2 separate regions of the Homo sapiens genome follow, and region 2 is linked to region 1. The links come from fine-mapping of genetic effects on gene expression. Tissue or cell type: whole blood. Region 1 holds a variant in brackets; the other region holds the start of a gene. All regions are shown on one strand. Distances are from middle to middle.

What was found. PIP is the estimated chance that this variant, and not a neighbour inherited with it, causes the effect.
Region 2: C1orf105 starts here. The variant in region 1 is fine-mapped to the expression of C1orf105 in whole blood (INTERVAL, PIP above 0.99).

What each region holds. Positions count from the first base shown.
Region 1 is chr1:172,445,383-172,460,908 of GRCh38, forward strand. C1orf105 (chromosome 1 open reading frame 105) reads left to right here. Exons shown (of 7, transcript NM_139240.4): 3 at 3,059-3,149; 4 at 11,033-11,107. Among named protein-coding and RNA genes, the nearest start is that of PIGC, 9.1 kb to the left of the region's middle. The variant C/G (reference allele first, on the strand shown) is at 11,007.
Region 2 is chr1:172,413,434-172,428,959 of GRCh38, forward strand. It overlaps C1orf105 (chromosome 1 open reading frame 105), which reads left to right and starts at 7,252. Exons shown (of 7, transcript NM_139240.4): 1 at 7,252-7,473. The coding sequence starts at 7,453. LOC102724528 (a long non-coding RNA gene) reads right to left here and starts at 9,923. Exons shown (of 3, transcript XR_001738294.3): 1 at 9,064-9,923. It also overlaps a transcript of DNM3 not described here. RefSeq lists an enhancer at 15,395-15,526.

The DNA of each region.
Region 1 (15,526 bases):
ACTACCACTCAACAGTATAAGATAATTTTTCCCCTAGACACTGTCTCTCAAAACACTTCCATCCTCTTTCTCACCCCACATTTTCTCCACTGCTGTAGTCTGAAATTTTCACATTTTTACCATCAAAAGTCTAGAACAGTAAGTTCCCATCTTTATAGAATAGTAACTCTGTATGTAACTTTGAGGCACCCTCCTACATTCCTGTTAGTCCTACTCCTTCCAAACAAACTACTATATGACACATAAATCTATTTTTCAAAATTGCAGGAATTACATATCTAGGGAGCATTTCAACTGTCTCTTGAAATAATTGGGTTACCGTGTCCCTTCTCCATTTTTGATGAAATGGTTCCTAAGTGTAGTGATAAACCCCACTCTGGGAAGGGGACATGGACAGAAGGGTAGGTGTGAGGTAGTGTTGGGGTGAATGAGAGAAACCAGAAAGAGGGCAGAGAGAAAGAGAAAGGGCAGGCATAGAGGCCATTCCAAAGGCACACGACAGACTAAAAAGGAATGACTCCTTGGCATTCGAAACAGCTCGTTAGAAAAGCCAGACTCCCCAAAAAGAGTTTCTCCTCCTGTTGATAACTACCATGTACCCTCCTGCCCATGGATAAGTGACTTCATAAGCAAATTCCCATCACTGTCTCCACATCCCCACTTTAGTAACATGTACCTTTGCTTTGTCTACTGTACATTAAAAAAAAATCTCATTCTCAGTAAATAGGTAGACGGTTTTAGTATTTTCAGAACAAAATTCACAAGTGCTTTCAAGTGCTCGTTATTCAGTTGTGTTATTTTTACATAATTTTGAATATAACGAAAGCAGATTATCAGAGGTTCAATAAACTCAAAGGCCTATTTAAGAAACAAAAGTACTAAGTGATAGAGTGCTTATTAAGAGTTGTTAACACTGCATGGATCAGCACGAGTAAGGACAGTCTAGCATATTTTAATTGAGGGTGGGACACAAACTCACAGGCCCATGACAGTCAGATGAGGGGCATAATGAGTAAAGCTGGCCAAACAGGACTGCAATGAATGGGAAATCACCTCCCCGCTTCAGCCCACCCCCACGCCAGCAGTGTTACCTGCAGGCATGTGAGTCCAGAGGCCAGATCCACTGGGTCTTCTAACAGTACTAGAAATCTGGATGTTTTATGTGAAATTGCTAGTGTTTGATCTAATAGGGTAATATCCCACCATCCCATACTACCCCCATGCCCATTAGACCTGCCCCAGCAGCGAAGAGCAAAGTATCCTTGTGCATGGCTCTCTTGCCCCCAGCTCCCTTGGTCTCTAATTACACAAGCCTTTGGCAGAGGGTGGAGATCAGGGAGAAGGGTAGGCCTAGAATACAACTGGGCATCGGCAGCACCTGTTCACTTTCATAGCCAGGTCCTGGAGGGTCAGAGCAGACAGTCTGTTGACAGCCAACTGGAAAGGGAGTGGGCAGTTTTTCCTCCAGCCAGCCAAACCTAAGCTAGGCACAAGGAGAAATTACCTTAGGCAGGCAGTGAAGCTCTACTCATCGCTATTCTGGGAGGATTGGGGTAGCAATCTTAATTCTTGTTTAGAAAAATGTAATATACCTACCTCACAACAAAGGTGACCGAACAGCACCTTTGAGGTGCCCTGAGCTCTCAGGAGGACAAGACGGGAATGAAAAGTCTTTTGAAAGGATGGTTTAAGTATCAAAAGATCTTAAGGATTAAAAGCTCCTCATGTGGGCCAAAGCTCCGGGTTCCAAGCTGTTTATTTTTGGCAAAGCCCCTTACTGAGACTTTGGGAGAAAGTTCTCAATGTGCCTTAAGCATTACATACCCTTGAGCAAAGAGTTCTAATGCAGAACAGTCTGAAAAAAGATAAAGGAACATTTAGCCAAATATGCTCAGAGTAATTCCAAGTGTGCGCAATGGAAACACACCTACAGGGTTGGAGGAGGTGAGGCTGGGCTGTAATAAGAAGTGCCTGTACTGACCCACTTCCTTCAAGGACTCTCTCAGGTAGGCCTGACAATTTCAAAGCCACACTCATCGTCAGTCTCCAAAGCCCTTCAAGTCACACTAAGGTCATGTTTATATAAGATTATTGTATGCTGAAGGAGTTCTAAACTGGCCTCCTGGTCTCTGCTGGTCAGCATTTGGGTGACAAGTCCAAGAGAGCCTATTCCCATATCAAAGACAAAGACCCCGAGGGCACTCATGTCAGACCCACCATCTCTGGTCTTACAGGGCCCAGGGAAGTGTGAGGAGAAATGAAGCAAGAAATGTCTCATGAGCATCAAACTCCTTTCACATGCCTTTGTTTTAAATAAACAATGGACAATGAAATCTTCCCTCATTAGAGAGGAGGTGTGTTCCCGGCAAAACTGCCAGCATTCTGAGTTTCTATTTCTTGGATGCCAGGGGCATGAATGGTGCAACACACACAGTTTATGATTATCAGGCCCCTGCAGGCCTTGGCCCCTTACACTGTAATGAAATGAACCACAGTGCCAAGTGAGACAGAGCGCAGGCAGGTCACCCTGTAAAAGGAACTGGTGTTCTTGCAACATCACTGCTTCAACTGCTAACTAGAAAGAAAAAATGTTCCAAAGGAAAAGAATGGGTGAAGGGAGAAGACATTCTGTGGGAGGAAACAGGTGGATTGTTTCAGGGTGCAAGGACACAAACTCCAAGAAGTCAGCCCAGGTACGAAAGGGGACAGGTGCAGGTTAAACATCAAAAACTTGAGTGCAGACCCTTTCAAAGAGGAAACCTGGGATTCATTTCGCTCATTACACATCTACTGTTGTGAACAATCTTTATCCTGCCTTGTTTGTACAGTGTCTGACAATCCAAAATTGGTTAGTGCAAAACAAAAGGGACAGAAAAGCCAAAGTGACATAGGAGGGCAAATCCATCTTTTGGGAGCTCCCCAATGGCCTGAGTGCTCCAGAACTGGAGTGGAAGATAGCTCCCTGTGGTGTCCCTTGTATTCTCTCAGAAACAACCAAGGGCCTGGCTCTTCAAACATGGGACTGCGGTTCTAACGTTCTCTTGTTTTAATTACTTAGATATCCTCATACCTCTGCGACTTTTCTGACTTCATCCAAGAAGAATATGAATTTGCCAATTTTGTTTCAAGTTCCAGATGTTTTATCTAAGGTACTAAAAAATTTTTGTTGAAATGAAACCAACAGCAGTTCTAGAATGACATAGAATATGAATACATGTCCCATCTCCTTAGCACAGCCCTGTGCTTGGTACACCATCAATGTTCAATAAATATTTGTTAAATGAAATGAATGGCCCCACCCCCCTCACTATGTCTCAAGTGCCTTAGGGTCCCAGTCCACTAGAACTAAGAATACAGGCATAAGGTTAGAATCAACAAAACAGGAAACTAAAAATTAGTATGGAGGAATCTGCCCCAAGACTTCCAGGGAATGCCTATCAGCCTGTGACTGGAACCAATCTGGAGTCTCTACTGCCTCCCCCAAAGGATTGCTTATGTCTCCCACCTACAACTCCCTACACCTGTGGAATTTTACATTAAAAACTCCTCATTTCCCCTCCACCATGACCGGCTGCCAGGTGACCCTCGGTGTCACTGTGGAGCAAGCACACAGGCTACAGTGCTTGGGTAGTCAGAACCTCCCTGAGGTGGAGAAAGAGAGAAAATATATGGTGAGATAAGCAATTTTTTCACCTGAAAAATTGCACATTCCTCACAGGGCTGTCATAGGCAGTGCCTGAAGCAGCGTCCTAAGGCACTCGACACGGTGCCCCACCCAGAGCAAGAGCTCAGTGAATGTGAGCCACAATTATTAGGAGCCCTGGTGTCAGTCAATATATGTTTACGGAGGCCTTTGTATTTGCTTTAATACATCAGAGATGAGTGAGTCAGCCGCAGCTACACAGATGAGTGAGCAGACAGGACAGGGACACAACTGAGAATGCGTCTCAGAAACAGGGCACAGCACTTGTGAGAGAAGGTGGGAGCAAAGGTTACCCCCAGGTTGGGCAAGCAGAGTGGAAGTGAGGGAATGATTCAAGAGGAAGTGGCATCTGCACTGGACCTAGAAGATACTGTTTTCAAGTGGAGGGAAGAGCCAGGGGTGGAGGAAGAACTGGAAAGAGAAGAGAAGATTATCAGCAAAGAGGTGGAGACTGAGTGTGCAGGAGGAAATGCCTGAAGAATATCAAGGAATTCTGAGCATACATGAAAGGGAAACAAGGACGCGGCTGGGCCCAGCTAATGCACACAGGGCCCAACAGACAAGAGCAGAGAGGACACATTGAAGGTTTTCAACACCGGAGTTTCAGGGTCCAAGCTTTGCTTAAGAGTCATCTCTTAGTCCCCCTAACACCCTGGACAGGCAAGTAGGTAACATGGCCACCATGACGTGCACTGGGTAGAGGTGGGGGATGAGCGGGGAGGCAGGACTGGCTTAGCAATTGCTGCAGAACCAGCAAGAAGCCTTCCAGTCATCAAGTCGCTGTGAACTTCCTATTTAGACAGGTCTCACCTGCCGCTGAATGCCTCCTCATCTCAGGTTTGTTCTGGGTCTCTGTACTGTGGCAACCTGGGCACTAGGACACCAGGCCCCAGCCTGGCTGGAGTGGAGAATGGGGAAGGAAAGCCAATGCTAACGACCAGTAGGAGTGAGAGGCCATTCTCCAGCAGGGTATAGCGGTTTTTGTGGCTGCAATATTCATAGTTAGCCACTAGATGACAGTTAAGAGCAACAGCTTCCAGCTGCGCAGCCCAAAGGGCTCCTGGGAGGCCAGTTTCCCGGCTGACCCGTGAGAAGTCCCAAATAGGTTGCTCTTATTGGGAGAGAACACAGGCCCCTCAGCCTCACCCTCACTCTCATCCTGTTAGGGGCTGACCCTCCACTGATTTGCACATGAGAAAGAGTCACCCCTGCAGATTGAAACACAAGTAGGGAACCCGGGATCCTTGCTCTGTTGGGGCACCAGGCCAGTACCTCCAGTCATATTCTTTCCCGTCACACAGACGTCCTCAAATTTGAATCTGGCTCCCAGAGTCTACTGCGTGTATGAAGGCCTGCACGTATGTGCCATGAGGTAAACGTGGATTCAGCTGGCAGCTGCTCCCTTCTGGAAAGAAACTGTTGTGTTTCAAGGGAGTAGAATGTACTGTGGACAGGATCTCTTCCTTCATTCTCTAAATCAGGGACCTGACAAGAAGCTGCTGGCAATCCGGAGGCCAACTGGAGACCCCGGACCCTGTGCAGAGGTGCAAAGCTCCTGCCACCTGGCTGCGTTCCTCTTCACCGTCACAGGTCAAAGGGCAGAACTTTAAACACCCACTTACTCCTCCCCTGCCCCGGAGCAGCCCCGTGCCTGAGGCAGGTGCACGTGTGCCTGGAGCAGTATTTCCTAGTGACTAGACAAAGGGGAGACAGGCTCAGAGACACAATAACAGGAAGAGGGAGACAGAAAGCAAGATAGAAACACACACACAGAGATGAGGGACAAAAAACACAAGACAAAAGGAGAGGCAGGTCTGTCAAAGAAGAAAGATTTTTAGTGAAGACAAATGAAGCCTAAACATTTCCTCGTTTAAACATCTACTGTGGAGAAGCTTCTTCATTTTCTCCTGCCATTTGCAGGCATCCACTCACGACTCCTCAAGATGCTGAGAAACAGAAAGGTGCATCATGATAGTTGGCTAACTGGGCCAAAAGGTGACTGACTCAGTGATCCAAGGCAAAGGAACAGCAGGTGTGTGGGGGTGACCCGGAAAACTGCAGCTGGAGACTCTGAAATCTCTTTGCCCACTTGCTGGTACTGGGTGTAAATTAACTAGAGCTCCTCAGTTACTAATAGATTATAAAATGCCACTCCACCCTCTCAATTCCTGCCCCCACTCTCTCTCTACTCACTTTGATCTGGGTTTGTTCTTCCAGTCTAATGAGTCAGAGTGAAGATAAGAACACTATTTATTTTGCTTTTAGCAGACCTGTGGCAAAAAGCCCTGGCTAAAAAGACTGTGCAGTAGCAGAGGCATAGCTGGGGAAGATGTATAGGATGTTTACTTTCTATTTTCTCACCACTAAGAACTCTCTTTTTATTATTTCTCTCACATTGACTAAATTTTCAAAGCTCATAACTACCAAGGAAACTACCTCATATACTCCTAAGTCATTTTCATATTTATATTGCTTATGTTGATCTAGTGCATATAATTACAAATACAATTTTTAAAGAGAATATTAAATGCTATTGACCTAAAATAGTGATGGTAATAAAAATCAAATTTAATAAGTCTGAATGTAGGGATATGGATATTATTTTTTATACATTTTGGGTTTTTTTAAGTATATTCAGCTTTATTTTTTTAAATGGCTGATATTTTCAGATAGAAGGAACATGTGTAATATCATAAGGTTTTTTTTGAATATTGAAATTGTTCTTTGAGCACTACTTTTGGGATTCTATGTGGTAGAAATAATTCTGCCTTTATATGGATTCTTTTTTTTTTTTTTTTTTTTTTGAGACGGAATCTCACTCTGTTGCCCCAGGCTGGAGTGCAATGGCACGATCTTGGCTCACTGCAACCTCCGCCTCCCAGGTTCAAGTGATTCTCCTGCCTCAGCCTCCTGAGTAGCTGGGATTACAGGCGCATGCCACCACGCCTGGCTAATTTTTGTATTTTTAGTAGAGAGGGGGTTTCACCATGTTGGTCAGGCTGGTCTCGAACTCCTGACCTCATGATCCGCCTGCCTTGGCCTCCTAAAGTGCTGGGATTACAAGTATGAGCCACCATGCCTGGCCTTTATATGGATTCTAAGAGTTTACTCTTCCCCTGAGGAAACATAATCCTTTTTATCCAAAAACTTTCTAGCCGACTGAAGTTCAATAGATGTGGTATTGGACAAATCTCTTAACCTTTCTGGGTCACAGCTTTCTCCTGGGTAAATTGAAAGATTTGAACCAAGTGTCCTATCAGGTCTCTCTCAGTTAAGTTACAAGTGGGAAGGAGAAAAGAAACAGAGGTGTTGAAGGAAAGGACAGAGGCAAATGTGTCAGTACTCCTCACAGGGTGCTTGTGAAGCCTGTTTTAATCACAAGCTGGTGCTTACATTTTTGTTTTTTATGTGAACAGGTGTGTAAGAGAGAGAAAGAAAGGGAGCGAAAGAGAGAAAGAAAGGAGAGTAGAGGGAGAGGGAGATGGAGAGAAATATATTTCTCTGTTTCTTTACCAAGGGTTCAAGAAGGCCATGGCCTTGGGCCATGAGTCAGCCCTTAGACACCGCAGCAGATATTGTCCTAGGGTATGAGGATGTTTCCAATTGTCAAATGTGTTTTTGGCTTCTGGGGACTGGCTGAAATCTGCATCATACCTTGGCCAGGCTACACATAGGTTGCTGTCACTCTCCTGTCACAACTGCCATCTGCTATCCAGAGGACAGCTGCTTGGGAAATGAGGGCCCCATTAACATTCCAGTGCCTCTGGCTCTAGACCTGATAAAACCAGAGCATTGTACTGTGAATGTGGACAATTCCCTCTCCATTCCTGTTATTGCTGCTGAGCTGGTCGTAAGGAAACCGAGTGAGAAGGGAATGCAACAGAAGAAAAAGACCAAAGACCTGGGTTTCAGGGCTGGGAAAGAAAGCAAGACAGAATGGAGGAAATGAGGCCTGCAGGACATGGCGTCTCAAATGTTTGCGTCGCCTTTAAAGTAGCCTGTCACAGCTGCCTTCCACGACTCTTCAATGCCCTCATCCCTTCTCCAGATAGAAATGGAGCAGCTCTTCTTGGAGGCCAGGCTTCAGCTGATAGCAAGTCTGAGGTAGAGTACAGCACAGATCAAAGATTGCTTTTTACCTTTAAATGTAAAGTGTAAAGGGACAGGATTAGAGCATCCGCCTCTGTCTTTTTGAACACAAAGACCATTATCGGTAGGGGAAGGGAGACTTGGAGAGTTTATATGATTGACAAAAGTCACCCAAGTTGTTTGTGAGCCAGGACTGGAACAGAGCTTTTTGGGCGTCTAGCCAGTGTTCTTCCCCAGTGCATTACATAGAATGAATTTGTTGTACTACAACACTAATGTTCTGTAACGTTTCCCTGAAGACCGTGTTACAATAGTGATCTTCATTTATATATGTATTTTTCGTTTTATATATTTAGGTTGATTGTGTCTATATTTAGACCTCATAATTTAAATTGCTTACAATGACTCATTCATTTGCCCAATGTTTGTTGAATACTTGCTGTGTGCCAGGTTCTATCATAGGTTCTAGGAATACAAAGATGTGTAAAACATGATTCTTGCTCTTAAATATAATAACTCTCAGCCCGGTGGAGGAAATAAACACATTTAAAATCAAGAATAGTGCAAATACAAAGAAAGCTAGACCAAGTTTATGATGCAATCAAAGAGGCAGGCACCCAACTGAGGTTAGGAGGGTGAGAAATGGTAGCAGCCCAGGAGAAAGGTTTTCTGAGGATGTAACACCTACACTATGTCTTAAATGAGTAGCTATCAAGGCCAGGTGGGACAATATATAAGCATTTCATCCCTCAGATTCTAAGAGATGACAGTCATTATGTTATGGGACTCTGTACTCACATTTACAGTTGTCATTAACCTAGCAAGATCTTGCAATGCACTTTGGGGATCTTGCAAATAATATCTGTTGCTTGATTTGCAATGAGCTCTGAGATTCCACTTCCTATAGGGTCTAATAGTAGTCTTAGCAGAAACCAGAAGTCTGGAAAAAGGTGAAGGAAATAATTTCAGTGAAGAACTTATATCTCTACTAAAAACAAACCTGCCCAAGAATTCTTCCATATCTGCCTCCCCTTGTCCAGGTCTTCCTCATCCCTTCAGACTGAGTACAAATTCCACTTCTAGGAAGCCTTTCCTGATTTCTCCAATCAGAAGTGGTCTCTCTGTTTTCTGAAGGCACAGAGGTATTAGTGCCTCTTGTATGATATCTAGTGTGTCCTACCTTAATTGCAGTTTCAGAAATGTACCTCACTCTCATACCTCAAAGATGTGAGGGATGGAGGGAGGAGCTGGAGCTTCAGGGGATATCACCCCCAGGGGTATCAGGAAGACATGGTAGAAAGTTGAATCAGCCCAAAGCAGAGGAGTCAATATCCACAGACATTTCCTCTCTAGTCTCTCTTCTCACTCCATTCAACCTCCCACCAGACAACCTGTCCATCCCAACCTACATTCACTTACCCGAAGCTGATTTGCTAGATTATTCTTCCAGGTTGTTGTATAGTGTTTCCTGGGCTTGCAACACCCTCACCATCCTTGTTCACTCCACAAACACCTACCCAAGCATTGCCTGTTTTTTTTTACCCTTCTCAGACCCTTCCCTCTCTGCCCCACCCCCAGTTAAGCTCAATGACCCCTTTCAGCTTCACTGGAGCCTCGATATATTTCTGTTGTAGCACCTTCAACACCATCATACTTCTTGATGTATAGGCTACTGGATGGTGAGCAGCTTGAGGTCACAAACTATGTCTTATTTATTTAAATGTCTCCAGTACCTAATGAATGGGTAAATGAATGAATTTGTATTCTTCTTTTGTCTTCCTTAGAAACTTCCTTCCAGAAACTTTGCTTTATTCGTCGGTATGACCCCCGTCACAGCACCCTTTACTTGGTAGCCTCACAATAGATGTTTACTGTTGAATGAATGAATCTAGTTATTCACACACATACTTTGACATACCAACCCACAACATTGTAATACTGAGTTGATTCTTTTTAGAATGCCCTATAAAAATGAAGTGTATTTTAAATGTTTCTCAAAAGAATCCAACTTTGTTAACAGTTTTTAGCCCTCAAACCCCCCATGATGCATCACCTAAGTGCCATATGTCTCTCACAGGATGAAGCTACTTGCAGAACAATCTGGCAAAGGTCATCCTAGGAGCACACCTCAGGAACTCCTCACTTTCTGTTCCTCCTCTTTCTGTTCCCCACACTTCCCAGGGCAACAGGAATGGGTCAAGGCACACCATGTAGTGATGGGCCAGCAAGCGGATCAAAGGAAAGAGAAGACTTCAGTCAATAGTCTTCTCACTGTGGCTTTCCTCTTCCCCATATTCTGCACTTTCTGTGACCATATCTCATGACTGATGTCAATGTGAATGAGGAAGGTTAAGAGAGAATCCCAAACATAAGTTTAGCCTCAAGTTCCTATATGCTTCCTAAGCAAACTTTTATCAGAGATGCAAATGAGAACCTCCTGAACCCAGGTGTAAATGCTCCAAAGTCCTCTCTTTAATGCTTTTGCAGAAATGAAGTCAGAATAAAAACCAGTGGTTACAGTGAGCAGACACGGTGCCCCTCCCCTTCCTCCACTGATTGCTTCTTCACCTACTGAGACAGCCTCTCTTTCCCAGAGGATTGAGGGGACTCAGGACTCACACACAAGCTTGAGTTCTGCTTGTGGCTTCAATCATTCTGCTTAGGAGGTACAGAAGGGCCAAATGGTGCTGGACCATGGATGCATGAGAGCTGTTTCTGGCCCAGAGTTAAGGCATGAGAAAGGAAGGCGATGCTTAGGAAAGGCCCGTGAAAAAAAGATTTGCAGAAGAGAAGTCTTCTCTTCATTCTTTCTTAGGCCATCAGAGATCCTCAGTCTATATGGTGGAGCCTTTTTATGAAATGGAAAAAATGGCCCACCTATAGGAGAATGCAACCCCTCAGACACAGGTGCTCAGGCTGGAAAGTAGAGACCCCACTGAATTTCAGGCCCCAGCCATCTCTGCCAGCTGTCTTTACATGTATACCACTGCATGCAGCAGCCTCAAGACCACCACCTAGCCTATGTCTCACTCCCTCCTGCCTAAACTCTCGGTACCTACCAGCTGCAGCACACTCCAGATTCAACACCCACCCTGGATGGGGCTGAGACCAGAGTGCCCATCTCTGTTTTACGGAAGGAAAAACTGTTACCTCTCTCACCCCTCCACTGCTTTCCTACATCTTTGCTGCCCTACATGCCCCACCATTTCCTCAC[C/G]TCTCTCTGTCTCTCTTTCCCCTCAGGCCAGGAGGAACCAGTGTGACTCCATGCTGCTCAGAAACCAACAGCTGTGCTCCACATGTCAAGAAATGAAAATGGTAGGCAAGGGGGAAGACAGAAATGGGCACAGGCATCTCAGGGTGCAGCACTGCCCTTCCCAGCCAAGCCCTGTGGGGAGAGATAGTGACGGGGCCCGTTGCAAGGAGGGCCTAGATAAAGGCTGCCAAGGAGGAACTGTTGGTCCTGGGAGCAGCATCGACTGACAGAACATGATAAACCTTCTCCGTTTCAACAAGCTAAAGGGTAACCAGGATAGATGGGCCAGAGTAGAGATGCAATGAGACACTTCGCCTTGGGCTCCTAAGTAACTACAGCCTCTCAGAGGCTTAGGGGATTATGGAGCTCCTTCTCCCTCCTTAATGTAGCCCCCACACAACACATAGGCTCACACTCATTTCTCCACCGTTACAATCAGGAGACAAACAGCTTCATCTTTGGGTTTACTGTTAATTTAGGTAGCACCTCAAGAGAAAGACTGGGGAGAGAGTCTACAGTACTTTCTAGGTAGTCAGGGGCGGTGTCACCTGCTTTGGGTATTTGTAACATATAGTGGAGAATGGTGGTAGGGGAGGAATATTAGGAAAAGAAAGAAGGAAAGCAAGGGAGATGTGGAGGGAACAAAGACAAACTTCTGCCATGCCATCTATCACAGTTGCTGAATCAGAGGCCTGATTCAGGAAGGATGCTAGACTAGGCTGGAGTTAGGCCTTCGGTAATTTAAGAATTAGAGTTAGCGCTGGGATGGTTGTTAGCGTCAGGGTAAGGAAGAGGCTTTGGTTAAGGGTTAATTTAGCAACATGGTTAGGTTTGAGGTACGAGCTGGAGAAGGGTTTCTTCAACTCTGATATCCTATAATTCTCCTTTGACTTGGGGAGGAAGGTGGGGCTAAATGTGTAGGCTAAACGTGCTTTAAAAGAATGGAAGAAAAATAGAAGATATAAGAAAAGCTCCTTCACTGAGTTCATGGCAAGTCTTAGGTCCAGTCGGATGTGAAAGAGAGTGGCACTTTTGTGAAATTTTTATGTGGGATTTACAAATTTAACTGAAGCTACCGGCAAAGCTGCACCTTGATGTTGCCATCTATGTTCATTTTCTACATAATTAGGGTCACTGTGTTAAATATTAGCATTGGCTGGAGTCTGGGAAACTAGGATTGGGATTTCTCCTGGTCTTATTCCTGGAATCCCTTGTGTCCACATTTAGAATGCACCAACCCCAGGCCTAAGCTGGCCTTGGCCAGCTGGCACACTTGGGACATCAGCAGCCATCCTCTTTCTCAAGACCTCTTCTCTGACCTTTGCCCTTGTCCAGGAATGATAGAAGTGGAGCCACATGCTGCAATTTTACCATTTATTGAAGCTTCTAAAAGGAAGGGCTTCAAACACAAAAGTGCCCAGGGACCCTTCTGTACTGCTGTCAGAACCTGGTGATAAACTACAGAAAGTTAGAAAATAAACATGAAATATCCTTGCCTCACTCTATGCAGTAATACCTCAAAGTCCTCCCAAGGGGAGGGACTGCAGGTCTGCTGTAGTCACTGTGATACCCCTTCTTTCTCAGCAGTGAGTTGAATAGAAATACTGGGGAATATATAAAAAGACTCCTAGGAATAGAAGGGAACTTCCTCAACCTAATAAAGAGCAGCTTGAAAAACTAACAGCTAACACCCTACTTAATGGTAAAAGACTGGATACTTTCCCCTAAGATTAGAAACAGGGCAACAATGTCTGCTCCTGACACTTCTACTCAACATTTTACTATACATTCTAGCCAGAAAGATAAGAAAAAGAAATAAAATCCATCCACATTAGAAAGAAAGAAGTACAACTAGTCTATTTGCAGATGATATGCTCTTATATAGCGAAAGTCCTAAGGAATGCACAGAAAACTATTAGAGCTAATAAATGAGTACAGCAGTGTTGAGGATACAAGATCAGTATATAAACCTTAATTTCTATTAATAGCAGTGAACAACCCAAAAATGAAGAAAACAATGCCATTTGTAATAGCATCAAAAATTATTTAGGAATAAATTTAACACGAGAAGCACAAGAGCTATACAATGAAAAGTATAAAACATTGTGGAAAGAAAATTTAAAAGGCCTAAATAAATGGAAAGAACCCCATGTTTATAGATTGGAACACTTAATATTGTAAAGATGAATATACTCCGCCAAACTGATCTACATATTTAATGTAATCCTCAAAATCCCAGATGCCATTTTTATAGAAATTTGCAATCATATCTTAAAATTTATATTAAAATGCAAGAGATCCAGGATAGCCAAACAATCTTTAAAAAGAAGAACGAAGTTGGAGGTCTCATACTTCTTGATTTTAAAACTAACTACAAAGCTATGGTCAGGACTGTGTGGTACTGCCATAAAGATAGACAAATAGATAAATGGAATAAAATTGAAAGTTCAGAAGTAAATTCTTATGTTTATAAACAATTGATTTTTGACAAAGGCACCAAGACAGTTCAATGAGGAAAGAATAGTATTTTCAATAAGTGGTACGGGGGCAGCTGCATAGATACATGCAAAAGAATGAATTTGTACCTCTTCCTCACACCATGTACAAAAATAACTCAAAATAGGTCAAAGAGCTAAATGTAAGACCTAAAACCATAAAACTCTTAGAAGAAAACATAGGTATAAAGCTTCATGACCTTGGATAAGGCAATGGTTTCTAAGATAGGACACCCAAAGCACAAACAACAAAAGGATATAGATAAATCAGTCTTCATAAAAATTTTAAACTTTTGTTCCACAAAGAACACCATCAAGAACACGAAAAGACAACCCAAATATTTGCAAATCAACAGATGAAGGATTATGTCAGATAAGGGACTAGTATCTGGAATATATAAGGAACACTTAAAACTCAACAATAAAAAGGCAAACACTCTAGTTGAAAAGTGAGCAAAAAGTTTCAATAGACATTCTCTAAAGAAGATCTACAAATGACCAATAAACACATGAAAAGATACTCAACATTATTTGTTGTAAAGCAAATGCAAATCAAAACCACAATGAGACACACTTTCCATCCACTAGGATGGTTGTAATAATAATAATAATAAAACGGTGGATAATAACAAGTGTTGGCCAGGATGTGGAGAAATTAGAAGCCTCAAAAATTGCTGATGGGAATGTAAAACAGTACAGTTGCTTTGGAAAACAGTTTGGGAATTCCTCAAAACCTTAGACACAGAGTTACCATATGACCCAGCAATTCCATTCCTAGATATGTACCCAAGAGAACTAAAAACATATTCACACACAAAATTCTACAAGAATGCACATAGCAGCCATATCTTAATAGCTGAAAAGTGGAAATAACCCAAATGCCTAGGGCTTGATTAATGGATAAACAAAACGTTGTCTATCTATATAATAGAATATTAATCATAAAAAAGAATGAAATACTAAAACATGCTATAACATGGATGAACCTTGAAAACATTTTGCTAAGTAAAAGAAACCAGATGCAAAAGATCACATATTATACTGGTTCCATTTATATGAAATGTCCAAAATAGGAAAATTCAGAGACAGAAAATAGACAGTGGTTGTCAAAGATTGGGGAGAGGAGTGAGTGAGAAGCAATTGCTAATAGGTATGTGGTTTCTTTTTGGGGTCATGAACTGTTCTAGGAATAAACAATGGTGGTTGTTTTACAACTTTCTGAATATACTAAAAACTACTAAATTGCACATTAAGATGGTGACTTATGATACATGATATCATAAACACCGATAAAAAGAAATTAGCACTAAATAAAAGCACAAAATAGATGAATCTCAAAAAAATGTAAATAGGACCTGGTTATGTAACTACTCATATTCCTATGTAACCTTGGGCTAGAAGCTCAATCATTCAGTGCAGAAGAAATACCTGCTGACAGTTATGGTTGTGAATCACCAGTGATATTTGCCTTGGTTTTATCTAGGCTGTGTTTCATCATGTCTCTGCTCCAAACAGCTCATCTTCCCCTTAATGCACCTATTCTGTAGTCCTTCTGTTATCTGCATTACTCTCTAATTAACACCTTCAAGCCCCTTAAAAGTAGGACCATCAAGCTAGACAACTGTAAACAGATATTCTCTAACATATATTAAAAAATAGTTTCAAAATAAATTAAGTTTATTTCAACAAATATTGATTGATTGTCTGCCATGGGCCAGGTACTTAGGTAAACTACAAAGAAAAAAAAAGAAATACATAAGACCTGTCTTTAAGGAGTCAACAAATAAATAAATAATGACAACAGAATGTAATCAATATAAACAGAAATAGATCTGATGGGGAGTGAAGGGGCAGTGAAAGTAAATATCAAGGAAGTCTTCCTTGAAGAAAAAGACTATTCAGGGTTTTCAAGAATGAATAGGAGTCTCCCACAGTACACTTTTTCTCAAAAACAAAAATCCTGTCTTTGGCAGGCAGCTTTGTTCT
Region 2 (15,526 bases), 32 kb before region 1:
AGCCAGGATGGTCTCGATCTCTTGACCTCGTGATCTGCCCGCCTCGGCTTCCCAAAGTGCTGGGATTACAGGTGTGAGCCACCGCACCCGGCCCAGTTTCCCCAGTTTTAAGAGAATGTATTCAGAAAATGAAAGAATGACACAACTTTGTCCTAATTTTGAGTTTCCAGAGAATAGAGGAAGACTCTCTATTACAAGAGTTTTGATGACAAGTCCCTTATCAATTGACATATTCCCAGATTGTGCCATCTAAATGCAGAAGACAAGAAGGTGATAGGAGGAGAGAGATGTTGATTTATTTTCTTTCTGCGATCAGGGCATGCTCATTGTGAAAAGATGAACTGGACAGATTGTTGTGTGAATTTACTCTTTCCTGTGGGATTTCTTTTTCATATCTATACATTTTCCATGAGTGGAACATCTGTACCTTCAAAGGAAGCTTCTTACTGGAAGAAAGATTCTGGATGCGAATCATGCTGTATACCTGTGTTCTGTTTGTTTGTTTTGTTTTAACTGCATGATTTTGAAGTATGTTAATCATATATTCAGAATAGTTTCTAAAGGTAATTTCCAAAAACAAAGAAACTTATTGTAACTATTTGGCAATTTTCCATTGGTGTTTTAAATAGCTCTGGCATTGGTGTAAACATATGCTCAATCTGTTTCCAAGATTTTTGTTTTTCTGATGGGACCTTTAAATTTCATATTGAGAAACGTGTTTAGTATTTGGTTTAGAGTGACCTCAAACTTTGCTTCCAAGCACTTCAACACACACCTGGCATAGCCACTTTTCAGACCTGTTACTAGTATTATTTTATATTATGGCAGCCTAATAATTAGAATACATACAAGAGATATTGGCTAAAACTACAACCTTAATTCAAAATTTCTCAAAGTGCATTCCATGAAATCTTAATAAGTTTTACATACACATACACCAATGGTTTTTTGGCCAAATATGCTTGAGAAATAATGACTAAAAATCAAATGTTTCTTTATTGAAAGACTTCACAGAAACCTTAAAATCAGACTGCATTGTGAATCTCCAAGAGATGAGTAATGTCTACATATTTCTCAGACTTATTTGACCATAGAACATCTCACAGATCTAGTGTCCTGAGGCACATGCCTTAGGAAACTGCTTCAGTGGCTTTAAGCCAAAGGAAAAGACATTGAGTGTGATTTCCTCAGTACAGACTCTCACTAACAAAAAGTTGGATGATAAAATCAAATGTACTACTCAGGAGGCTGAGGCAGGAGGATCAGTTCAGCCCAAGAGTTTGAGACCAGATTGGCAACACAGCAAGACCTCATCTCTAAAAAAAAAAAAAAAAAAAGTTGTTTGTTTTAATTAGCTGGGCATGGTGGCTCATGCCTGTAGTTCCAGCTACCGGAGAGGCTGAGGCAGGAGGATCAGTTCAGCCCAAGAGTTTGAGACCGGATTGGCAACACAGCAAGACCTCATCTCTAAAAAAAAAAAAAAAAAAGTTGTTTGTTTTAATTAGCTGGACATGGTGGCTCATGCCTGTAGTTCCAGCTACCGGAGAGGCTGAGGCAGGAGGATCACTTGAGCCCAGGAGTTTGAGACTGCAGTGAACTGTGATCGTGCCACTGCATTCCAGCCTGAGGAGTGGAATGGGACCCCACCATCTCTTAAAAAAGAAAAAGACCAAATGTAAGAGCAACAAGAGCTCTCAACTAAGGGCAATTCATCTGGAGCTCTGGTACTTTGTCAAAGGAGTATCTGACTCTTAAGGAGGAAAGTCACATTGGAACAGGTAGCACAAAAGCAGTTTAGAGACATACATGCATTGAGTCTTAATGAGACTTATGAAGGATTCAGATAATTTTATACCTTACCTTTTCTCTCTGACTCTCCAAAAAAGGGATTCTTTAAATTACCTCCATGAGATTATTGTGAAGGAAGGCATCCAGGTTGATCTAAGATTAATCATCAGAGAAGAATGTTGAAGACTATTCCTATTGCCTTTCTTTCCTCCCTTTCCCAAGCCTTCAGGCTCACTCACTGCTCTGGGTTATTAACTTACCTAAAGGATGGGCAAAGAAAGCAAACAGAGCATTTTTTGTGAGTTTTTTTTTTTTTTTTTTTTTTTGAGACAGAGTCTCACTCTGTTGCCCAGGCTGCAATGCAGTGGTGTGATCTTGGCTCACTGCAACTTCCACCTCCCAAGTTCAAGTGATTCTTATGCCTCAGCCTCCCCAGTAGCTAGGATTACAGGCGTGTGCCACCATGCCTGGCTAATTTTTGCATTTTTAGTAGAGACGGCATTTCACCACATTGGCCAGGCTGGTCTCGAACTCCTGACCTCAAGTGATCCGCCCACCTCAGCTTCCCAAAGTGCTGGGATTACAGGCATGAGCCACTGCACCTGGCCTTTTTTGTGAGATTTTAACAGAAAAGAAAAAAGCTATAAGGAAGACCTCCTCAGAGATCTGGCCAGAGGAATGTCACCATAAGACCAAATTTCAGCGTTGACATAGAGCCAAAAGAATGAGGGTAATTCATCATTCTTGTTAATAATTGAGTCTTTTATATATAAATTACACCCATGTTCCAGATACAGCTTTCCAATCTCCTTTACCTGATTTGGCCAAAACATGCTGCTTTGAAGTTATTTTTCAGAATGCTTAAGAAAATATAACCTGAAATTATAGTCTTGATTAGGTAAATTTGCTTATATGTTGAATACTAGGATGGTGAGCTTAAGAATTTGTTAGCAACTCAGTATTCCAATTTAGTACTGCAACTTTCATATGGGAGTGGCAATTGTATGAGGTACCTTTGTAGCTCTACATGTAAAAAGCCCAAATATTTGCAGCACTTGCCTTTAAGCATTTCGGCACTGTGTAAGTCATATAAAAATTATGCAAAAGAAAGAGCAAAAACCCCAACTGCCCATATCCTTAAAAGAACTAATTTTGACCCAGTAAATGGTATCATCAACAACAATGCTTTTTCAGCAATGACAGGAAGGGTAGATACAGTAAAGTGAAGATGAAAAGAAAAAGCTGTCTGAGGATATAAATGTCACCCTGATGTTTCAAGCAAACATTCTAGCTGTCAGTGGAATATATTCCAAGACATAAAGTTTCTGATCCTGTTTCTGGATCAGAACACCAAACTAGCTCAAACAGGAAAGTGTTTTGGCATATGCTAACAGAATGTCGCTTCAGCACTGTGGACTTGCTGTTCAGTTTAATGGCCCACCTCCCCACCCTGCTGAGGTCATTAAAGTGTTCTAAAGCCCCTTCAGAACTCGAAAATAGTTTCTGTTTTCTGGGCAGGTGATAAATCTCATTGAGCTCGACAGAAATTTAATTACACTTTCTTCATGAAAACACCAGGGATACCCATTACCTGGATCTCTAAAGCTAAAGCCTTGCAGACCCCCTAGCCCCTGCCCCGGCCCTGAAGTTGAAAGGTTAGGTACCAATAACAAGTTCTCCATCATTTAAATGGATGGGAGGCCTCTTTAGTGTAGTCAGCTTAAACTGGACTGAAGGAAAATTGATTTTGGACTTTGGGGAAGCTAAGATCATTTTTTACCACTGCCCAGAAATACACCAGTCAGTTTGGCTCCACTAACATCTCATAGAAAATGAAAAAGAAGTTTTTCTGTTTTTGTTTTTGTTTTTTTTTTATAGACTTCATTGCTCCACTCACAAGCAAGAATAAGATGTGTAACAAGAATAAGATGGAAGTGAGCGTTGTTGAACACCTGGATAAGAAGTCAAAGAGAGTAGGGTCTTGAGATAATCTCACCATTCTACAGCTTCCTATAATGTTGAGTTCATTAATGGTTTGGTTAGAAAGGGGAAATTAAAGTGTAGACTTCTGCCAAAAACCAGAGGGAAAGCTTTATTTGGCCTGCTGTTTTCCTACTTACAAAGCTGTTCATTGCAATGTAGGGTTTACTGTATTTTCTCTAGCTGCAAATCATCTCCCTGCTGAACACAAGAAAGGCTGATGTCAAATGAAGCACAACTTGGACCCTCATTTCATTATCCATAGGTCTGATGAAATGCAAGCCAGCCTAGGGAAATGGAGAAAGATCCAGCAGACCAGATTTCATTTACCTTGGGCCCACTTCAGAACAAATCAGAAATACAGTTATACCTAGCTCTTAGACAGAGGGAAATCCTAGAAAATCCTGGGGTTGCCATGGACCAGACCTTGCCTCCTAGTTTCCCTAGGCCTGAATCCAGGCTATTACACACCAGGACTACTCACCTGGAGCAAATTCTTATTTACAAATCCTTTTTTTCTGAGATCAACCTCTGGCATTCTCTGCATTGTGATTACATTGCTCATTTGATCTCTTGACACCTTCTAATTTACCTCACTTAAAAAAAATTTAACCTGCCATTGGCTACATCAACTCCCTCTCCCCCTATGGAGATTTCACAACATTCATTGAAATCTTTGGAAATAACTGAGTTTCACAAAATCAGGGTTGAAAATCAAATATACAAGTTATAAAGGTATTTGGCTCGGGGACTAGTCCCAGTTCTCCTGAATAAGAGTGCATGGATTTATCATTCCATGGTGCAAAATAAGAAGCTTTTTGAGTGAGCTCAAATGGCTCATACCTAGAACATTGCTAGTAGCCAGGAAAAGTCCTGGGAACTGCTAACTTAGCTATGTGATGTCCCTTCATTTCCTTTGCATGTCTGCATGTTTTTGTGTGTGATTTGAATTTGACTTTTGTGAGCTATTTTTGCATGCTATTATTTGGGTTTATTTTATAATTTAAACATTGTTTTCTTCCTCTGCATCTGTGTCTTTCTTTTTGTTATTTTGTTTTGTTTTGTTTTGTTTTTACTAGGCGACCCCCTCCTGCAGTTCCAGGACGACCATCCTAACCCCCATCATTCATCTCCTTTTGTTTCCAACAACATGTCTATCCATGGTATTTAAAAGCTTTTCATTTGCACTATATGTCGTATGTACATAAAAACTTTTATTTTTCATCCATGTGTATAATAAAAACAAAGTTTATTCTATATAAAAATGAAGTGTGTTCTGTTTCTTTTTTTAAAGAAGACCTAAATTTAAAAAAGAATTTGTTTCAACTAAAACAAGGTAAGGTGAATATATTATGTGTTCCTCTAAGAAGCTTAATTCAAAAGTTCTTAAAGCATTGTGATTTAAGACGGTCTTTGGTAGAGACTAATAATCTACCTTCAAGTGAAATTTCTGTCCAATAGAAGAATAAAAAGAAAAAGAAAATTTATGGATGTCTAGAAAAAACACAGAAGACTAAATAATTCCAATCCACCTCCAGGAATCCCATTTTTACTTATTATTGCACCAAAATATTTTTTCCTATTATTGTTTTTCTAAACACTCTTAAGGGAGATAAAATGTAAGATCATAGAAGAAACTGTAGAGCAAAAACACATAAACCTCATAAATTCTATATGGCAAATGTAAGGGCGAAAAACCACATCATTCAGAATAAAAGTACAAGGCAAGGAAATGTTGCCACCTTGAGAAGAAAGACTCTTCATGATGTCAGTAAAGCACTAGAAAAATGGAGTCCATATAAGTTTGAAGGAATAGAGAACTTTTTATTCCTCTATCCTCAAATGGTAATTCTAACACTAAAATTTTAATCTATAATTTTTTAACAAGCATCCCAAAGATGTATCCAAATAAAATGTTTATTATTTAGGTAATATAGTACATTCCACCAAATATGTGATCTGAAGCCTTCCCAAAGGTTTAAGATTTAATTCAGAATTTTATTTTTTGAAAATTTATGTGGCCTAAAATAGAACTTGAAAGTAGTCCTTCTCAAATGAGATCACTTCTGAATGTGCTCCCCTTCAGCATATTAAGATGACAGAAAACTACATGACAAGAGAGTCAAAAAAATCATTCATCAGTTCTATTTACTTCACATCTGACCTAGGCAAGCCCTGGCAAAGGAGGTATTTGGAAGATGTGGGCAGGAACCCCCAGTTGTAAAAGGGAGAGTCCTCATTAGTAATGCTGTTTCTTCGGACCACAAATTTTTTTAAGGACTGAGTTCTCCACTCAAAAATGAAAAATCAGTTTCTTGGTTTAAAATGTTCATATGGCATGTTACATTATTTTAATTGTATCCCCGGTCCAGTGACTACCATTTAAAATCAGTGATAACTAAGAAAGTTCAAAGGCTCCAAACCAAGGCATCAACTGAAGCTCATGTATAGCAGGAAGGAGGTGACTTGATGTAAAATAGCACATAGCATGCAGTCTTTTGTCCTTTCCTTCCCCTCCAGTCCAGGCATTTGATTTTTAAATCAATATTCTTAGTGGATAGCATTCTTCATCCCAATAGACAAAAATGTACCTAGATGATTTCATACCACCTCCCCAAATGAAAACCGAAGTTGTCAAAGAGAAGGTTTTCTTCAATTCATTTTTTAAAAGTGTTTGGTACTTTTCCACTTTGTCTTAAACATGGACTTATTTTTATATGCAGTGTTACACAGTTTAGATGTATAAAACTTAAATTGACCTGATGAATGATGAGAAGGAAAAACTCCAGTCATAACAGAATGAAATGACAACCTTACTCAGTTTTCCTTAACAAAGAAGTGTGTTCCCTTCCTTACATTCTATAGGCAAGAAAAAAGAGGGCAGGGGAAAGGGATGGGGGGCAGCCTGGAGTAAAATTAAATTATGCTAAGATTTGTTAATATGTATTTAGTAAATAGTATTTCTATGTTTCATAATATACCTTTCCCCAACTCTTCTTACCTCCACCTCCACCCTGCTATGTTTAATAGACTTGAAAAATTACTCCCTTTTTCAGAGTTGATCATAACTCAGGATAGTCAGGAAGAGCCAAACTATTATGCCTTTAGTAAACATAATATTCCTTATATATTTTCATTCCTTTATTTATGCATCAAACATTTCTTGAATTCATGATAATGTCCTGGACCCTGGGAATACCAGAGAAGTAACAGAATAAAAGTAGCTTACAAAATAGCTAAATAAGCAATTACAATGTAGTGCTACAATAAGAGAAAAGTTTGGTTGTCTTTCCAGGGAGAACTGTTCTGACTTCAGTACTGAAGCAGCTATCTGAGTTTTAGTATACTGTTATCAACTTTACCCAACACATGCTAATGTTCCAGAACATTGTGATTTTGACTTCTAACAAAGAAAGGAATACTAGAACTCATTTCAGCCAATCAGAAACTGAGCTTTTCATTCTGAATGGAATTATATGATTCAAGATGTAAATCACACAGATGTTGGTAGAGAAAAAGGCATACTGGTATTGAAACTGTAAACTGGCCTGTTTACTTCGTCTCCTAACAAAAAACACTTTGGATTCAGGTTCTCCACAGCAGTCTTCCACTGGCCACAGTGAGGGGAGCTAGGTTTCCCCAGTCTCCAGCTAGAAAAACTCAGAACATCTAAAGATCTGAAAGATGGAAAAAAGAGAACTAAAGGTAGGAAAAAAATAAATGAAACTTCCAATTCTTTCCTTATGGGGTTACCCTGGTAAATGTTTGTATGCCTTGGAGGCCACATAAACATTGAGGGGTGTTTCAACAGACATCCTAGAAGTTGAAAGCCAAAAGAAGGTAAGGAAATAACAGCTGATGTTCAGTTACAGGTGAAGATAATTTTAATGGGTTTGGGGCATGATAAATTTCAATGCTCTTTATCGTATAGTTTGGAAAAAATGTTGTACTTGCCAACATCTTTTATAACTCAGCATTTAAGTATGATTTTTTTAAATCCTCAGAAAATTGATACCAGATTCTTTAGTGCAGTTCCCTGAGATTCTGAAGTAAACCTTCTCAACTGTGAATGCACTTTAAAACAATGAATCTCAGTCACAGGAAGTTAAGATTGCTGAGAAAGAAAAAAAAACTTGTATAGACTTTTATAATTACTAGGGTCTAAATCTGAATAAATCACATTGAGCTTATGACACTGTATGTTTCCTATTTAAAGGGATATACTAGCTGTCTCTATTACCATAGTACAGGTGCTCCTTGACTTATGATAGGGTTACATCTCAATAAACCACCACAAGTTGAAAATATTGTAAGTCAAAAATGCATGCAATACCCTGATGAACCCATGATAAAGTAAAAAAATCCTAAGTTGGGGAGGACGCAGAGCAAGATGGCCAAACAGAAGCCTTCACTGATTGTTCTCCATGCACGAACATCAAATTTAACAACTATCTACACAAAAAAGCACCTTCATAAGAACCAAAAATCAGTGATCACAAAGTGATCACAGTACCTGGTTTTAACTTCGTATTGTTGAAAGAAGCACTGAGGAAGATAAGAAAGACAATCTTGAATTGCTGACACCACCCCTCCCCCATCCCCTGGCAGCAGCCACATAGTGTGGAGAGAGAATCTGTGCACTTGGAGGGAGGGCACAGCGATTGTGGGACTCTAGAATTCAGTGCTGCCAATACGGGGCAGAACTTAGCTGTTGCCAATGGAGGGACCATTTAGACCACCCTTAGCCAGAGGAGAATTGCCCATCCCAGGTTTCAGAAACTGAGTTTTGACTACCTCCACCACCATGGGCTAAAGTGCTCTGAGGTCCTAAATAAACTTGAAAGCCTGTCTGGGCCACAACAACTGCAATACCCAGGCAAGTCCTAGTGCTGTGCTGGGCTCTGAGCCAGTGGACTGGGGAGCGCACGATCTAGTAAGACACCAGCCAGGATGGCTAAGTAAGTGCTTACAGCACCCCTCCCCCAACCCCAGGCAACACAGCTTATGGCTCCAAAAGGGACTCCTTCCTTTGCTTGAGGAGAGAAGAGGGAAGAGTGAAAAGGACTTTGTCTTGCAACTTGGATACCAGTTCAGCCAGAGTAGGATAGGGTACTGGGCAAAATCCTGAGGCACTCATTGCAGGCCCTAGCTCTTGGATGACATTTCTAGATATACCCTGGGCCAAAAGGGAACTGCCTTGAAGGGAAGGACCCAGTCTTGGCAGATTTCATCACATGCTGAATAAAGAGCCTTTGGACCCTGAAAAATCAGTAGCAGTAGCCAAGTACTACATACCGTGGGCCTCAGCTGAAACTCCGAAATGCACTGGCTTCAGATGTGACCCAGCACATTCACAGGTCTGGTGGCTACGAGGAGAGACCACTTCTGCTTGAGAAGAACAGAGGGAAGAATAAAGGGGACTCCGTCTTGAGCTTAGGTACCAGCTTAGCCACAGTGGGAAAGAGCACCAAGCCAGCTCTTTGGGTCCCTGATTCCAGTCCTTGGCTCTTGGATGGCATCTCTGGACCTATTCTAGGCCAGAGAGGAGCCCACTGCCCTGAAGGGTAAGTCACTTTCCTGGCAGCATCCAACACATGCTGGCAGAAGAGCCCTTGGGCCTTAAGTGAACATTGGCAGTATCCCAGCAGTACTCCTCATGGGCCTGTGGTGGTGTTGGACATGAGAAGAAACTCCTTTGCCTGGGGAAGAGCAGGAAAGGGTGGGAAGGACTTCAGTGGTTCGGGTGCCAGGTCAGCCACAGTAGAATACAAAACCAGGTAGATTTCTAAAGTTTCCAACTCCAGGCCCTGACTCCCAGACAGCGTCTCTGGACTCACCCAGGGCCCAGGGGAACTTGATTCCCTGAAGGAAAGGACACAGCCTTGCTGGTTTTACCACCTGCTGATTGTAGCGCCCTAGAGCCTTGAGCGAACATAGATGGTAGCCACGTAATAGTTACAGTGGGCCTTGGGCAAGACCCAGTGCTATGCTGGCTTCAGGTCTGACCCAGGGCAGTCCCAGTAGTGGTGGCCACAGGAGTGCTTATATCACCCCTCCCTTAGCTCCAGTCAACTCAGCACAGGAAGAGAGACTCTGTTTCTTTGGGAAAAAGTAAAGGAAGAGAACAAGAGTCTCTGCCTGGTAATCCAGAGAATTATTCTGGATATTATCTAGGACCACCAAGGTGGTACCTCTATGAGTCTGCAAGAGCCACAGCGTTACTGGGCTTGGGGTACCCCTTAATGCTGATATGGCTGCAGTGGCCAAAAACTTAGATCATAACACCCAAGTCCCTTCAAATACCTGGAAAACATTCCGAAGAAGGACAGGTACAAACAAGCCCAGACCAGACACTAACAAGCATCCACAAGCACAGGACCATCCAGGAAAACATGCCCTTACCAAACAAACTAAATAAGACATCAGTGACCAATACTGAAGAGACAGAGATAGTGACCTTTCAGACAAGGAATTCAAAATAGCTGTTTTGAGGAAATTCAAAAAAATTCAAGATAACACAGAGAGGGAGAATTCAGAATTCTATCAAATAAATTTAACAAAGAAATTGAAATAATTAAAAAGAATCAAGCAGAAATTCTGGAGTTGAAAAATGCCATTGACATACTGAAGGATGCATCCATCAGAGGCTGTTAGCAGAATTGATCAAGCAGAAGAAAGAATTAGTGAGCTTGAAGCCAGGCTGTTTGAAAATATATAGAGGGGACAAAAGAATAATTCCAAGTTGAACCATTGTATGTCAGGGACCATCTTTATATATTTTTGTTATTGTTTTTGATGCTACAAGTTACTATTGAATCTAAATACTGTCAACATATTAAGATCAGACTAGGTGGCAGGCTATTGGATGAGTCAACACTATAAACTCCTACTCCCATCCTCGGTTTTTAATCAAATCAAGTTTTATCATACATTATGTCACATCCCAATTTTCAGCCCCAGTTCACATCTTCAATGAACCTCATGAACATGAGCCATGGGTAGATAATAAAGAAAGCCTAAGCAAGCCGCAGAAGACCAAAGAGACTTAAGGATCTGCAAGGCAGTAACCAAGAAGTCACTAATGTGGGTTCTGCCTCTCAAAACAGCTACTAACAAAGTATTTTGATGTTCCACATAACATTATCAAAAAATTAGCCTCTCAGGCTTTTAGGGGTTATATTCCCTTCTCTTTTTTATTTTGTTTTTTGAGATGGAGTCTTGCTCTGTCACCCAGGCTGGAGTGCAGTGGCACGATCCCGGCTCACTGCCACCTCTGCCTCCCGGGTTCGAGAGATTCTCATGCCTCAGCCTCCAGAGTAGCTGGGACTACAGGTGCCTGCCACCACACCCGGCTAATTTTTGTATTTTTAGTAGAGATGGGGTTTCACAATGTTGGCCAGGCTGGTCTTAAACTCCTGACCTCAAGTGATCTGCCCACCTCAGTCTCCCAAAGTGTTGGGTTTACAGGTGTGAGCCACCGTGCCCGGCCTCCTTGTTCTTATCTCTGAGGGTACATTCAGAAGGCAATGGAGAGCAAGTTAGAGTCAAAGAGATGATTCCTTCTGCCTCTTTTTTTTTCTTTTAATGACAAAAATATTCTCAGCTACATCCACAAAATCTGCTCAATGTCTTAAAGATCTATTTATTTTGCAACTTAAAAAGAGTGTGAGGCCCACAGTGTTCTCACTGACCAGAGTTCAAATGTCACTCGGGCCCAGCACAAGGCCACAGGGCCAGCCTGGAGTGGCAAGCAGTGAGCCAACAGAGCTTGTAAAGTAGAAGCAGCTCCTCTTGAGCCAGGTTTCGTGGGAGCCTGAGGGACCTCAGCATTGGTAAAATCAATTTGTTCCATCATCCTAGTAGTATTATGGTCAAAGAATTACAGAGCTAGTCTGTTTAGGACAGAAGACCTTAGGATCATACTGGATGTTACTTGATTCTCAATGCCAGTTGGTTCCATTTGGTGGCAGAAAAGGCCATTTGTCTTTCTAAGCCCTTTCCTTGGGTACTTTTACCCCAGCATTACCTGATGGGCATAAGGAGGCAGCACCAAATAGTGTTGCCAGACTTGTGGTGCTGAGCACATGCCAGCCAATTGGGAAATGGCTGCTTCCTGACTACCCCACCTCTGGGGAATTATCTCATTAATCACAGTAATATACCTGGAGGAAAATGATGTTTTAATTTTTTGATGATGGTTATTGTTCGTCAAGTTACACCAACATTGATGGCATCTGTGAGTTACGAAAGGAAAAAAAAGCAAAAAGTATAGGCGTGGTCTAAGCTAGCAGGCCCAACAAGCCTTCAGCTGTTTCTAATCTGCCTCTCCCCTGCAGCTGAGCCCTCTTGGTGGCCAAAGGAGTATGCCTTATCAGGCCCAACCTTCCACAGAATGTTGGTCAAACCCTGGCTCTCACCTAAGCTCTGATCACTTTGCCCAAAATCAAAATTTTTAGAGCACTACAATGACACTGCTTGCTATTAGAAGTTTGCACTGTTCTGAGGAGGTTTGTGATATTATCCCCAAAAGGTCCTTGTCAAAATGCACATAACCCAGAGAACTAGCACATTAATCCCATTAGTGAGCAATAATATGCTCATGAGGATGTGAAAAGGCCTACATTCTGAGAACACATCTCCTTCAAGGTGAAGAGGAAGCCCCCAAAATTCACCCCTCCCTACCCACCCACTCACACGCTCACTACTACTATCTGCCTTACACTTACTGGAACTTATGTCATTAACCTTTTATCCCAGCCTGTGTCAATCATCCAAGAACCCCTGGATTCTAGGCCACTCTCCACGCTAATTTCCATGCAGTTCTGTATGTTCCTATTCTGTCTTCCCATCTCTCCCAAATTTCTGTAACCCTTCCACTGTCTCCTCTATAATTCACTGCCCATGATCAACAAAATTCCCTGTATCTTCAACCTATTCTCTGGATATGCACTTCACAATCTTACTCTAACAAACCAGAGTTTCTCTGAAAGGACTGCCTCCCCTGCATCCTTTTCCAAAGGTGGCAGCTTGTCTCCCACAGCCCTCACACTGCTGAGCCTGAAGTGGGGTAGTTATCCTCATTTTTTGTTTTGTTTTCAGACCATTCTTCTTTCCTCCTCGCTAAAACCCCCAGCTTTGAACCTCATGGCATCAGATTACAGCACTATCTACATGACCCTATGTGTTGCTTTTAACTACCAATGCCCAATTCATTCTCCCTTATTTCTTGATGATTTTAGCTCCTGTTTCAATGTCACTCCCTCCAGTGATACTCCTGTTTTAATTCTTGGGGATTTTCATACGCTTCTTGGTAATCCACCCTCACCCTGCCTCTCATTTTCTTGACTTCACTCTTTCAATGGTCTTTTTTTTTTTCTTCTACTTGAGTGCTAAGTAGTGAGATCTTGCAATGATCTTGCTCTCCACTCTATCTCAGCTACTCATTTCCAAAATTAAAACCTTGTCTTTCCCCACTCTCTCATCTCTATATCCTATCTTTCTAGCCTACTTCTATTGTTTTAATCTCTTGGATCTCCAATCTATTCACCTTTATGCTGTCCCTCAGCCCTCTGTCCTTCACCCTTCTTGAGGTTCACTCTCCTTACCCAACTTAAATTGAATGGTCAATCATTGTCATCATGCCCATGCATATATACCTGTCTCCCTTGCCCTTCTCTCAATTTGTTAAAACCACCATTCTGGGTAAATCTAACTCTCTACCTACTCTGGTTTGCACCCATGTAACTGTACATGGTCTGGAAAGCACACACACAAGCAAAGAACAAAGCCAGGATAACTGGTTTCACTTTAAATTAATCACCACCATATTCAAGTGAGCCCTTAATACTGCCAAGCAGTTACACTAAGCATCCCTTGTTCATTCACTCTCCCAATGTCCTAAGTTGTTTCACACCTTTTCTCTCACTCCCCTATCCTCAATCTCAGCTGATTCCTTGCCTCCAACTTCCCTGAGAAAATTGAAGCAATCAGAAAAGAACTCCCAAAGACTCTCATCACCTCATCTACCCATTTACTAATATCGGTATTCATCTACTCTGTCTTCTCACTTGTTCCCATAGATCAACCATCCCTGCCCTTGTCGAAAGCCAGGCTTTGCACTTGTGCACTTATGTACTCCAGAATATTTCCCCAGCAATTCTTCCCTCTCTCACACCATCAACTAACAACTCTCTACCATTTCATTTCAATCAGGGTGCAAACATGCTATCATTTTTTTGGTCTTCACTTTCCCTTTCAGTTTCTGTCCTATTTCCTGGCTCCCCTTTGAAGCAAAACTATAAAGCTGTCTATACTTGCTGCTAAATTTCTCTTCTATTTTCTCTTAAACCCACACCAAACAGGTTTTTATTCCAGCACTCCAACAAAAACCTGCTCTTTTAAATGTAAAGGTCAATTTTCAGCTGTCTTACTTGCTTTATCATGTTTTTATCTGATCACATTTGATCACCCACTCTCTCTGGAGACACATTCAGCACTTGGTTTGCAGGACACAGAATTCTCTTGCTTTTCCCTTGCCTCAGTGGTTTTGCTGTCCAAATCTTTTTGCTTCTTCTTCGCCTCAACATTTTACTTTGGAGTTCTTGGTCCTTTTCTGTCTATAACCATTTCCTTGGTGATCTCATTCAGTCTCACAGCATTAAATATCATTTATATTGCCAACAAATCCCGAATTTATATCTGAATTTCATCTCTCTCAAACTCCAAGGTCATATTTCCTATATTCCCTTCAACATTTCAGGCTGAATGTCTTCAAGACATTTCCTATCCCACGTGCACCAAACTAAACTCCTAATCTTCCTCCCCAAAATCTCCAGTTACCATCCCTCTGCCCCCACCTCAGTTAACAACATATCCATATTTCAGTTTGTTCAGGGGAAAAACCTTAATTTATAACTCTTCTCTTTCTTTCACACTCTACATCTAATACATCAGGTAGCCCCACTGTCTTTACTTTCAAATTACATATAGAACGTGACTATTTTCCGCCACTTCCTCTGCCATCCTCTGTTTTGAGCCACCATTATCCCTTGCTTGTATTACTGCAAAAGCCTCCAAATGCTTCTTCCTGTGTCTACTCTTGCCCTACAGCAACCAGAATGAGCCTTTCAAAATATGTATCTTCTTTTTCTCCATGACCCTCCAATGGCTCCTATCTCAGAGTAAAAGCCTAAGCTAGTAGCTTACAATGTCATACATAATCTAGCTTCCCACGTTACCTCTACGACTTCGTCTTCTGTTGCTCACTCCACTTCAGCCACTCCTTGCTATTCCCCACACATGCCAGGTATTCTTCTGCCCAAAGGTTTTGTAGCAGCTCTTTCCTCTGCAGCTCTTCCCTCTGACTGGGATGCTCTTCCCCAGGGAATCTGAATTACTCCCTCACTTCCTTCAAGTCTTTGGTAAAATGTTACCTTTCCCATGAGACCTACTCTGACCTCTTTATTTAATGCTATGCCACTTTTTTCTTTTTTCCATAGCACTTACTACCTTCCATTTATGTTTATTATCTATCTCCTCCTGCTATAATGTCAGCTCTACTAGGTCAAGAACCTTTGTCCTTTTTATTTACAGATATATTCCAAGCACACAGAACAGTATTTGTCATACAGTAAGTACTCAAAAAATATTTATTGACAATAAATTCCTGAAGCCACACACTATAAAAATCTGAATGGTAGAAGGTGAGTAGAGGGAAGCTTATGTAGATACTAAATATTTTGTTGGATTTTGGGGGATA